Linked DNA regions of Homo sapiens. The protein of the gene in region 3 interacts with the protein of the main gene of each other region in a biochemical or structural test. Each region holds a gene or a part of one and is shown on either strand. Other genes may lie near its edges.

Evidence for each region.
Region 1: the proteins of ACOX2 (region 3) and PEX5 interact in a test that uses a peptide from one of them, tested with the Homo sapiens proteins (one large-scale study listed by BioGRID).
Region 2: of the proteins of ACOX2 (region 3) and CLK1, one has a biochemical effect on the other in vitro, tested with the Homo sapiens proteins (one large-scale study listed by BioGRID).

The regions. Positions count from the first base shown.
Region 1 is NC_000012.12:7,206,658-7,209,449, reverse strand, and holds part of PEX5 (peroxisomal biogenesis factor 5), read right to left. Parts: intron 1,792-2,792; coding exon 1,648-1,791; intron 1,441-1,647; coding exon 1,370-1,440; intron 994-1,369; coding exon 781-993; intron 446-780; coding exon 280-445; intron 1-279.
Region 2 is NC_000002.12:200,854,609-200,858,263, forward strand, and holds part of CLK1 (dual specificity protein kinase CLK1), read right to left. Parts: intron 3,482-3,655; coding exon 3,365-3,481; intron 3,277-3,364; coding exon 3,110-3,276; intron 2,378-3,109; coding exon 2,283-2,377; intron 2,204-2,282; coding exon 2,074-2,203; intron 479-2,073; coding exon 396-478; intron 88-395; coding exon 8-87; intron 1-7. UniProt on the Homo sapiens protein: Dual specificity kinase acting on both serine/threonine and tyrosine-containing substrates.
Region 3 is NC_000003.12:58,527,093-58,530,747, forward strand, and holds part of ACOX2 (peroxisomal acyl-coenzyme A oxidase 2), read right to left. Parts: intron 3,547-3,655; coding exon 3,374-3,546; intron 1,865-3,373; coding exon 1,702-1,864; intron 1-1,701. UniProt on the Homo sapiens protein: Oxidizes the CoA esters of the bile acid intermediates di- and tri-hydroxycholestanoic acids. Capable of oxidizing short as well as long chain 2-methyl branched fatty acids.

The DNA.
Region 1 (2,792 bases), on a different chromosome or scaffold from region 3:
TTTCCCAGTCCTCCCAAGGCAGTCAGTACATGGAACACTGGAATGAAATACCCCAAGACTCCAAAAGTCTGAACAAATTATTCTTTTTTGTGGGGGTGGGCAGGGTCTTGCTATGTTGCCCAGGCTGGATTTGAACTCCCAGGCTCAAGTGATCCTCCCACTTCAGCCTCCCAAGTAGCTGGGACTACAGGCATGCACCATCAAACCCAGCTTCCCAACAAATGGCTCTTCAATAAGGTACACAGTCATGTCCCATTTCCATTCCTCCCCTGGGCTCACATTGGGACGAACGCTGAGGGCAGCTGTGAAGCAGTCCACGGCCTTGTCATACTCCCCACTCAGGTTGAAAAGGACTCCCAAGCCACACTGCACATCAGGGTCAATGGAGGTAGGGTCCAGCCGCACAGCTGCCAGGAAGAGCTCTTTCACTTCAAGAAACAGGGAGCTGGATGAAAAGGAAAAAAACACAAAGTAGGTAGATGAATGTCTCTATTCCCATCCCCCCAAATTAATTTCTTCATTGATCAACCATATCCCCAACATTCATCAATCTATCAGTCATCTCTTCTACTCTCAAAGTCCAATATAGAAGCCTGTTTTTCTATTTCATCCTAGCACTGAACTGTAGAATGCAGACCTCCTTCAACTTGATCCTAGGTTTCCCATCCCATTCTCAGGACCCTTCAGTCTCAATCCATCCAAACTTCCAAAACCAAGGTCACCCTCCTACTGGGACTTAGGTTACTGTAATTCCTCATCCTAGGAACCCCTCATACTCACTCAGACAAGAGAGATCCCAGGATACGCTTGCTGGGGCCCAGTCCTGCCCCACCAGCCCCTTCTTCAGCAGGTGTCACCAGATGGGCATAGGCTGGTGTGTACCGCAGCCAGTCTCGTAGGGTTTCACAGGCCTGTCGCTGCAGGGACTCGTTGGTGAAGCTCACAGCCAGCGCCATCAGTGCTGTCTGGTTATCTGGCTTTAGCTCCAGACACCTGTTTGATCAGGGATGGGCAGACTTGATATCTGCAATGACTGACACTGGCACATGTGAGCACCCTGGGATCCAAGCCAAGCTTTGAAATGCAGAGTCACAATGGCCTCACCTGTGACTCCTCTGACATGAGTTAATAATAAAGTTACAGATCTAAGGGGAAGGTTTTAGCAGGCAAGGAGCCAACCAAAGCCGCAAATAAAATCAAAAGCCGATGAAGGAATGGAATTCACTCCAACCCTCAGAGTTTCAGCATGAGAAAACACTCTTGATAGCACTCAGAAAGAAGACAAGGATCCAGGTCTGGGCTTCTGTCATTCAAAAGGTTATATGCAGAGCCTTGGAAGCACCTCACCCACACCTTTCAGTGTACTCACCTCCGCAATGCACTGATGGCTAATAGTTCTTGTTCATTCTCTGCCTGGGTGGTACCCAGATACTGCCAAGCCTAGAGGGAAGTTGACAGATTCCATCACCCCATATTCACCTCTCCATTCGCCCTTCCCCCTGGCTTCTCCCACTCACCATCTCGCTCTCAAGCCCCTATCCTAGGCCATCACCCAGGCCCTAACCCATCTGCACTACTCTCCTTGGGGCCTTTCTCAAGATGGAGGAAGCAGTCTCTAGCCAGAAATGAGACTATGGAGTCACTCACTTCCATGTGCTTAGGATCCTGCTGCACAGCTGCCTCAAAAAGCAGCACAGCATTTGGCAGGTCCCCCTCCTGAAGGCGCCGCAGCCCTTCTTCAAAAGGCTGAGGGTGATCACGCAAGGGGTTCTCCTCCTCAAACTGGTACCCCTACAAGAAAAGCACGTGAGAGATGGACTGAGAGGTGGCACCGTCAGAACAGCAGGGATGTGAGGATGACAACCAGCAGGCAGAGAAGCTGAGGGCCTCCAAACAGGTTCCGGAATTAATTGCTGGCAAATTCTCCATATTATAAAGATCATGTATGACACAAGTAAAATCATTTGGTATCAGGTTTGTGCTCCCATCTCCTGTTCATGATACCTGGGAAGCTAGGAAAGTCTACAAATTCATCTGCGCTGGAAATAAGCTTATTTTAGGAAGTCATCACAGGCTTGTATTCCCACACCTTGACTTCTCACCACGGGGCAGAATGTCTCAACAGGATCTGCTTATAGTAATGAGACAAAGTGTCCCTAGCTATGCAAAGTGCATTTCTTGTTATCCTTCAATAATGTGATGATGTATAAAGGAAATGTTGTTTGGAGTCCTGCTATTCAAATATAACTCTTACTTAGCTCAGAGTCATTCCACATGTCAACTAGATAAAACATTTTCAAGCATTTTGAAAATGTTAATTTATTCCCCGATTTCATTCTTAATAATCATGAATATTAATCTGTATCTGACAGTAAGCAAAAGCTGGATCCCAAAATCCAGATGGCAGAGAATACTTCAGAAAGACACCATTCTCTTCCAGCTGAGGATTTCTCACTTTAGAGAAGAGTTACGATACTATCTGCAAAGCTTTGTCAACTGGCATTTTACACTAGGCAGAGAAGAAATGAGGTAAAGGGGAAGTCACTAGTAAGCTGCAAAATCTGGGACATGCAAATAAAAAGTCCGTTTTTGGAGAGTAGTTACCATCATAAAATAATACACCAGAACGAAAACAAGATGCAAAACAACAGGTGGAGGTCTTTCTAAATGCAGTTAAGAATAAATTCAGATAAAACTGTACAAAATAAAGACATGAGGCCCTTTTTCATTATTATTGTGAAAATGATAAAGAATCAAAAACACTTAAATCTTACCAGCAAAATTCTAAGTCA
Region 2 (3,655 bases), on a different chromosome or scaffold from region 3:
AACGTACCTGGTTTTCTGTATCATATGTTTTGGTAGAGGTCCAAGAATCCTTTCCATCATTGCTAAATGCTCCTTACTATCGTGTGTCTAGAAATAAAATAAAAACAGACTTGGGGAAGATGACCACCAAAACAGACACAGTTAAAGCTGACAGCAAAAAAACTAACATTAAGGCTTGCAGAACAAACTCGCCAATGATTCCCTACATGGACACGGATAATTGCTTATATACTGAAAGATGTTTTAAATAAAACAATTATGAAAGAAATATGAATTAGTTTATTTATGCTTATCTACAATTAATAGTCTATAATGGGGGAAGCAAAAGTATTTATTCATATAAACAGGCACCTTTCTTGTGCAAAGCAAGGTTGAAATAGATCATTGTCACTTACTGGAAATACGGTAAACCCAAGATAGTATTCAATAAGAATGCATCCTATGCTCCAGACATCACATGGTTGGGACCACCCTAGGGCTGCAAAGCAAAGCAAAATTTAAGGAAAAAAAATACTCAATGTTTGTTAAAGAAATTAAAAAGTTAGTTAACACTAATACTTTAAAAAAAAAAACACATGTAATGTAGGCTGGGCACAGTGGCTCACACCTGTAATCCCAGCACTTTGGGAGGCCAAGATGGGAGAACTGCTTGAGCTCAGGAGTTCAAGACCAGCCTGGGCAACACAGCGAGATCCCACCTCTATTAAGATATATATATATCTGAATTGGCCGGGCACAGTGGCTCACGCTACAGGCATAATCCCAGCCCTTTGGGAGGCTGAGGCAGGTGGAACACGAGGGCAGGAGATCAAGACCATCCTGACTACACGGTGAAACTCCGTCTCTACTAAAAATACAAAAACAAAATTAGCCAGGCATGGTGGCAGGCACCTGTAGTCCCAGCTACTCAGGAGGCTGAGGTGGGACAATGGAGTGAACCCCATAGGCGGAGCTTGCGGTGAGCCGAGATCGCGCCACTGCACTCTAGCCTGGGTGACAGAGCAAGACTCCGCCCCCCCCCCAAAAAATTATATATATACACATATATATGCAATGTGATGTTTGAGCTGGAAGATCCTAAAGCAATCACTTAATCCAAGGTTAAATACAATATATATGGCCGGGCGCAGTGGCTTATGCCTGTAATCCCAGCACTTTGCAAAGCCAAGGCAGGCAGATTGCTCCAGGTCAGCAGTTTGAGACCAGCCTGCCAACATGGTAAAAACCCCATCTCTACCAAAAATAAGAAAATTAACCGGGTGTGGTGGTGGGTGCCTATAATCCCAGCTACTCAGGAGGCTGAGGCAGGAGAATTGCTTGAACCCAGGAGGCAGAAGTTGCAGTGAGCCAAGATTGCACCACTGCACTCCAGCCTGGGCGACAGAGTAAGTCTCCGTCTAAAAAATAAATAAATGATAAAAATAAATAAATTATATAGTGTTATATATAGTCTGGAATAAAATAGGCATTAAACAATTTTCTGAGATGGAGTCTCGCTCTGTCGCCCAGGCCGGAGTGCAGTGGCGCAATCTTGGCTCACTGCAACCTCCGCCTCCCGGTGTTCAAGCAATTCTGCCTCAGCCTCCTGAGTAGCTGGAACTACTGACGTGTACCACCACACCCAGCTAATTTTTTGTATTTTTAGTAGAGATGGGGTTTCACCATATTAGCCAGGATGGTCTCGATTTCCTGACCATGTGGTCTGCCCGCCTTGGCCTCCCAAAGTGCTGGGATTACAGATGTGAGCCACCGCGCCCCACCCTTGGCCTCCCAAAGTGCTGAGATTACAGATGTGAGCCACCGCGCCCCACCTGGCATTAAACAATTACATTTAAAAACCCTACCACATATTACAAATGTGAAAACAATTCCAGAAAGGTTAAGCCACTTGCTCAAATTCCCAGAGCTAATTATCTGGTACAATTGAGAGCTTAAAATCCATAATGCACTTCATGATACTTATCCCTTAAAGAGAATATGATAAAGCCCCACAAGTAAGACCTAAAACTGCTAAAAAAATTTTAAGTCTCAATAAGGAAATACAAAGGTTCTCAAAGGACAATTAATACTCACCTAAAATAACTTCAGGTGCTCTATAATGTCTTGTAGATACCAATGTACTGTGATGTTCGTCATCATATGTTGCACTACCAAAGTCTACAACTTTAATATCTGGATTTATTAAGGTGCGTTCATCACGTTTCTGAAAATCATAAATGATGGTTAAGAAGGCATAAGCTATTAAGGCATAAGATACTTTATGAATATTTTGGAAGACTTACTATTTTGGGATTATACGCCTCTGTGTAGTCAGACTGCACAAATAAGATGTTTTCAGGCTTTAAGTCTGTGTGAGTCAACTTATTACTGTGCAAAACTGAGAATAAAGAGAAAGTTGCTGTAATCAGAAAACACCAAACCAAACCAAATCACAAAACCCCACAACAGGCCGGGTGCAGTGGCTCACGCCTGTAATCACCTGAGGTCAGGAGTTCGAGACCAGCCTGACCAATATGGTGAAACCCTGTCTCTACCAAAATTACAAAAATTGGCCGGGTGTGGTGGCGTGTGCCTGTAGTCCTAGCTACTCGGGAGGCTGAGGCAGGAGAATCACTTGAACTGGGGAGGCAGAGTTTGCAGTGAGTGAAGACTGCGCCACTGCACTTCAGCCTGAACAACAAAGCGAGACTCCATTTCAAAAAACAAAAAAACCCAACAAAAAACCTCTGATTCCTTTCCCAAAGAATGGTCAACATTCCAGTCTGCTAGAAAATCACCAGTAACTAAAACTTACTACCTCTTATGAAGCTTTCTTTTATGAGATATATCACGCCTTAATTTTTACCCAGCATTCGAAGTTACTATTTTTGCGCATCAGAAAAGTCTAAATCATAGTCTGCAACAAAGTACGTTGTTATATGGTGGATATCCTACTTGCTGAATGAAATGTACACTGCTGGATCAACAGCCTGTAATCAAATCTCTTCATACCTATTCTTCCTCCCCCTTTATTTTTAATCAAATAAAAATTGTACACACTTAGGATGCACATTTTGATATGTGGAATGGATAAAACCAGCAAATTAACGAAGATATACCAAGAACTTACAATTCACAGACTTGCATATCTGATATGCCATCTTTCTGATATGATCCAGTCGAAATGGTAGAAAACCATTTTCTTTAATGAAGTCGTAAGTACTAAGTCCCAATAGTTCAAAAACAATGCAAATGTGACCATGATGCTCAAACCATTCCAACATCTGGACACAGCGGCTACAAACACATGAAAAATAGCTAAGTATAGTTGCTCCTAATTTAAATATACCTGATACCACTTCCCAAGTTCTAATCTGATACTTACAAAGTACTGTTGGGGTCTGTTGTATTCAGATGTTCCAGAACTTGTATTTCTGAGCGAGCAGCTTCACAGTATCTATCCACATTTTTAACTATTTTTACTGCTACATGTCTACCTCCCCTGTTAGAAAGATGCATGCAAATTTAAGAATGACAGACATGATGCTCAATTCCAGGTATTACTGTCTTCAAACTGTACTACTACTCTGACCCACTGTATTTTTTTAATTTATGGTTTAGTGTTCAGTTCTGATTCTATTACATGCTGAATGACACAAATTTCTTTCATCAAACC
Region 3 (3,655 bases):
ACCCTCAAGGGTTAGGGCTAGGATTAGGAGGTATTGATGATTAGGACTAGGATTAGGAGGTATTATGATGGTAGTAGGAGTTGGGGCCTTCAGGAGGTAATTAAGTCATGAGGGTGGAGGCCTCATGAATGGGATCAGTGCCCTCATGAAAGAGGCTGCTTCTGGCTGGGTGTGGTGGCTCACACCTGCAATCCCAGCACTTTGGGAGGCCAAGGCAGGTGGATCACGAGGTCAGGAGATCGAGGCCATCCTGGCCAACATAGTGAAACCCCGTCTCTACTAAAAATACAAAAATTAGCTGGGCGTGGTGGCGTGCACTTGTAGTCCCAGCTACACAGGAGGCTGAGGCAGGAGAATCTCTTGAACCTGGGAGGCGGAGGTTGCAGTGAGCCAAGATTGTACCACTGCACTCCAGCCTGGGTGACAGAGTGAGACTGTCTCAGGAAAAAAAAAAAAAAGAAAGAAAGAGGCTGCTTCTACCATTTGAGGACACAGCAAAAAGCCGTTCAGGAAGCAGGCCCTCACCTGACACCAAATGCACTAGTGCCTTGACCTTGGACTTCCCAGCCTCCAGAACTGTGAGCAATAAATTTGTTTGTTTTTCTTTTTTGAGACAGCGTCTCACTCTGCTGCTCAGGCTGGACTGGAGTGCAGTGGCACAATCACAGCTCACTGCATCCTTGCACTCCTGGGCTCAAGGAATCCTCCCACCTCAGCCTCCAAAGTAGTAGTTGGGACTACAGGTGTGTGCTACCACACCTGACTAATTTTTCATTTTTTTTTTTTTTTGTGGAGACGGGGGTCTCACCATCTTGCTCAGGCTGGTCTTGTCTTGAACTCCTGGGCTCAAGCAATCCTCCTGCCCTGGCCTCCCAAAGTGCTGAGATTACAGGTGTAAGTCACCATGCCAGGCCAATTTCTGTTGTTTATAAACCACTGCTTTATGGTATTTTGTTACAGTGGCCCCAACAGGACAGAGGCTGCTGGGCAGCAGGACTGCTTTCAGATTTTGGTTCTTGAAGACCCTGCCTATCTTTGGAGCTTTCAAGTCCTTGGGAGGAAAGTTATGTCCCTTGATCTCTCTGTGCCTCATTGCAGTTGGAAGGGTTAATGAGCAGTGCTTATAAAGCATGGTAGCCTGGACAGACTGAATTTTACTATATATGTAAGTCCACAATGCTTTACCTGAGACCTGTGAGCCAGATGTGTTTAGGAATCAGAGTAACTTTTGGATTATAGAGAGGCCAAGTGGCATTTAAAGTGCATTTTATATAATAGCCCCAGTGGGGTTTGGGGCAGCTTTAGTGATTAAACACATTAATAATTTTACTGCAAAATGTATTCACACTCAGAGGGATAAATCAGGTCAGTTCAGGTCAAACTATGCCACCAAATGAGTTCCAAACAACTGTTTTTCGGAGCTTTTCAGGTTTCAAATACACATCAGGGGTTGTGGACCTGTGTTCTCTACGCTAGGTGTGATTGTTTTCTCTTAGTATGTTTGTAGCTCTCTGGGGGCTGGTTGTGGGTAAATTTATATACCAGGGTGCCGTTCACCCAGACGCCCTGGGATGCTGAAAGCTGGGAGAGGTGGGGGTGGGGAGTGCCCATGGGGATGGGGCTGTGGCTGCTCCCCAGTGAGTGGAACAATCTTAGCTCCCAGCGCCTGCCAGCGCCTGCCCCTCCGCAGACAGCAGGTACCTCAGGCAGGAAGCTGAAGTCTTGGTTCAGAATGGCAGTGTAGGAGTGCTGGAAGAACTCCAAGAGGCTGACTGCCAGGAAATGGAAGGCATAACTGATGGCCAGCTGAGGAAAGAGTTTCTGCTGTTGTGTCTGGTAGTCCAGGACCTTTGCCTCTGGGTCACTGAAGGGAAAAGAACCAGAAGATTTAGATCACTACCTGTTGTGTCCACCTTCCCCTATCCCCGACACCATAAAAACCTTAAAAACAGACAGTTCCTTAGAACTCATTGCAAAACTTGAACTGACATGAGGCCATTGATAATCCTTTAAAAATCCCATCTAACATGAACATCCACACATTTCACTGCAGGAATACTGACACATTTGTTGGTGGGTACTGCCCCTTGTTAAGGGAGGCTTATAGAATTCCAGCATATACACAGTATTATCCTAAAACCTGAAAAGTTCTGAGACTCCAACACGTCTGGTCCCAAGATTTCAGGTGAAGAGTTGTGGCCCTGCACCTGTGATGATTTGAACCTGTGACCTTCCACTGCCCGTGTGCACTTGCCGCGCGCTGAGGAATATGTCAAGCCTAAACAATAACTCTTAGGATGTAAACTCAGGTCTGATGGAACCCCAAGGAAGGGACTGTGTCTGCCTTATCCGCTGCTATGTCCTCAGTGCCCAAGGCTATGTCCGGCATTTAGGAGCTCGCAGTAACTGGATTGAAAGAGGATGTGATTACAAGAAGCCTCCTCTACAGACAGCAGCTGCTTACCTGGCGCATCTTTCTTATAACCACCCTGGGGACACTTCTGCAGCCCAGATAAATGGGCCTCGGGCAGGACAGCAGCAGAAGCCCCTTCTTCCCAGTGGCCCTGTCCTCCAGAGAACTCTTGCAGCCCAGATTCTGAAGCCCAGGCCAGGCGAGGGCGCTGTGAGCTTGCCAGAGGAAAGGACCCTGGGCTGAGGACTTAATGTGCCTTACTGCATTTCACCCTCCACACCACACTGAAAGGCCACTTCTGCCACACCCATTTTGTAGCTGAGGAAGCTGAGGGATGAAGTGAAATGGCCGAGCTGAGTGTTCACAGAGGGTTCAGGCAGCCCTTGCTATTCTGTGCTGTGGGGTGGAGGGAGTGGTAGCAACACAACCAATTACAACAAAAGGGATCCAGACTAGACATACCAGTGGGATGCTGACAGCACAGCTGGACAGAACGAGCTCAGCCACACACAGTCGATATGATATTGGATTTTGCTAGGCTCGGCCTGACAGAATCAACTCAGCCAGCCATAGTCTGATGCAGCTGGCAACTGGCTGACCCAGACCCGTCCAACCCGTCACAGCCGCACAGAACACGGCTGGACTCGGACAGACACAGAGTCAGACAGACCTGGTGCTACAGGGCCAAAGACACTATCACATAGAGCCCGATGGGGGCCAGGCACTGAGGATGCAGGTTAGGCCGGCTGGTCAGCCCTGTTAGAGGCAGCCAGAGAGACTCCTCTGACATGCCCAGATGGGGCCAGGCTGGGTAGATTTTGTGTTTGTGTGTGTGTATGTGGTGGGGGGCATTGCCTGCTCCCAGCACTCTGGCTCTGGCAGAAGGGTGGTGTCAGGGGGAGGCACTGTGGGACCAAGAGGCAGCATATCTGCGGTAGTCAGTCACTGGGCACCCCTTGCCTGGGCCGGAGCCGGGATTGGCGGCGGATGACCGAGTAGCGCATGGCGATGACACAGGCCTTCTGCAGTATAGGGAGGATCTCCCCTGACAGCAGCTCCACCCGCACCACCACCATGGGAAGGTAGTTGCTCTGTGCTGTACCGAGTTTGACGTAGGTGCCATCTGGCAAGACCTGTGTGGAACAAGGACGGGCACAAGTTCTGGGCCAAGGCTTCCCAGGATGCCCTCGCTTCTCCAGAGCTGTGGGGCTCCACACATGGAGGGCACCTCGCCCCTCAACC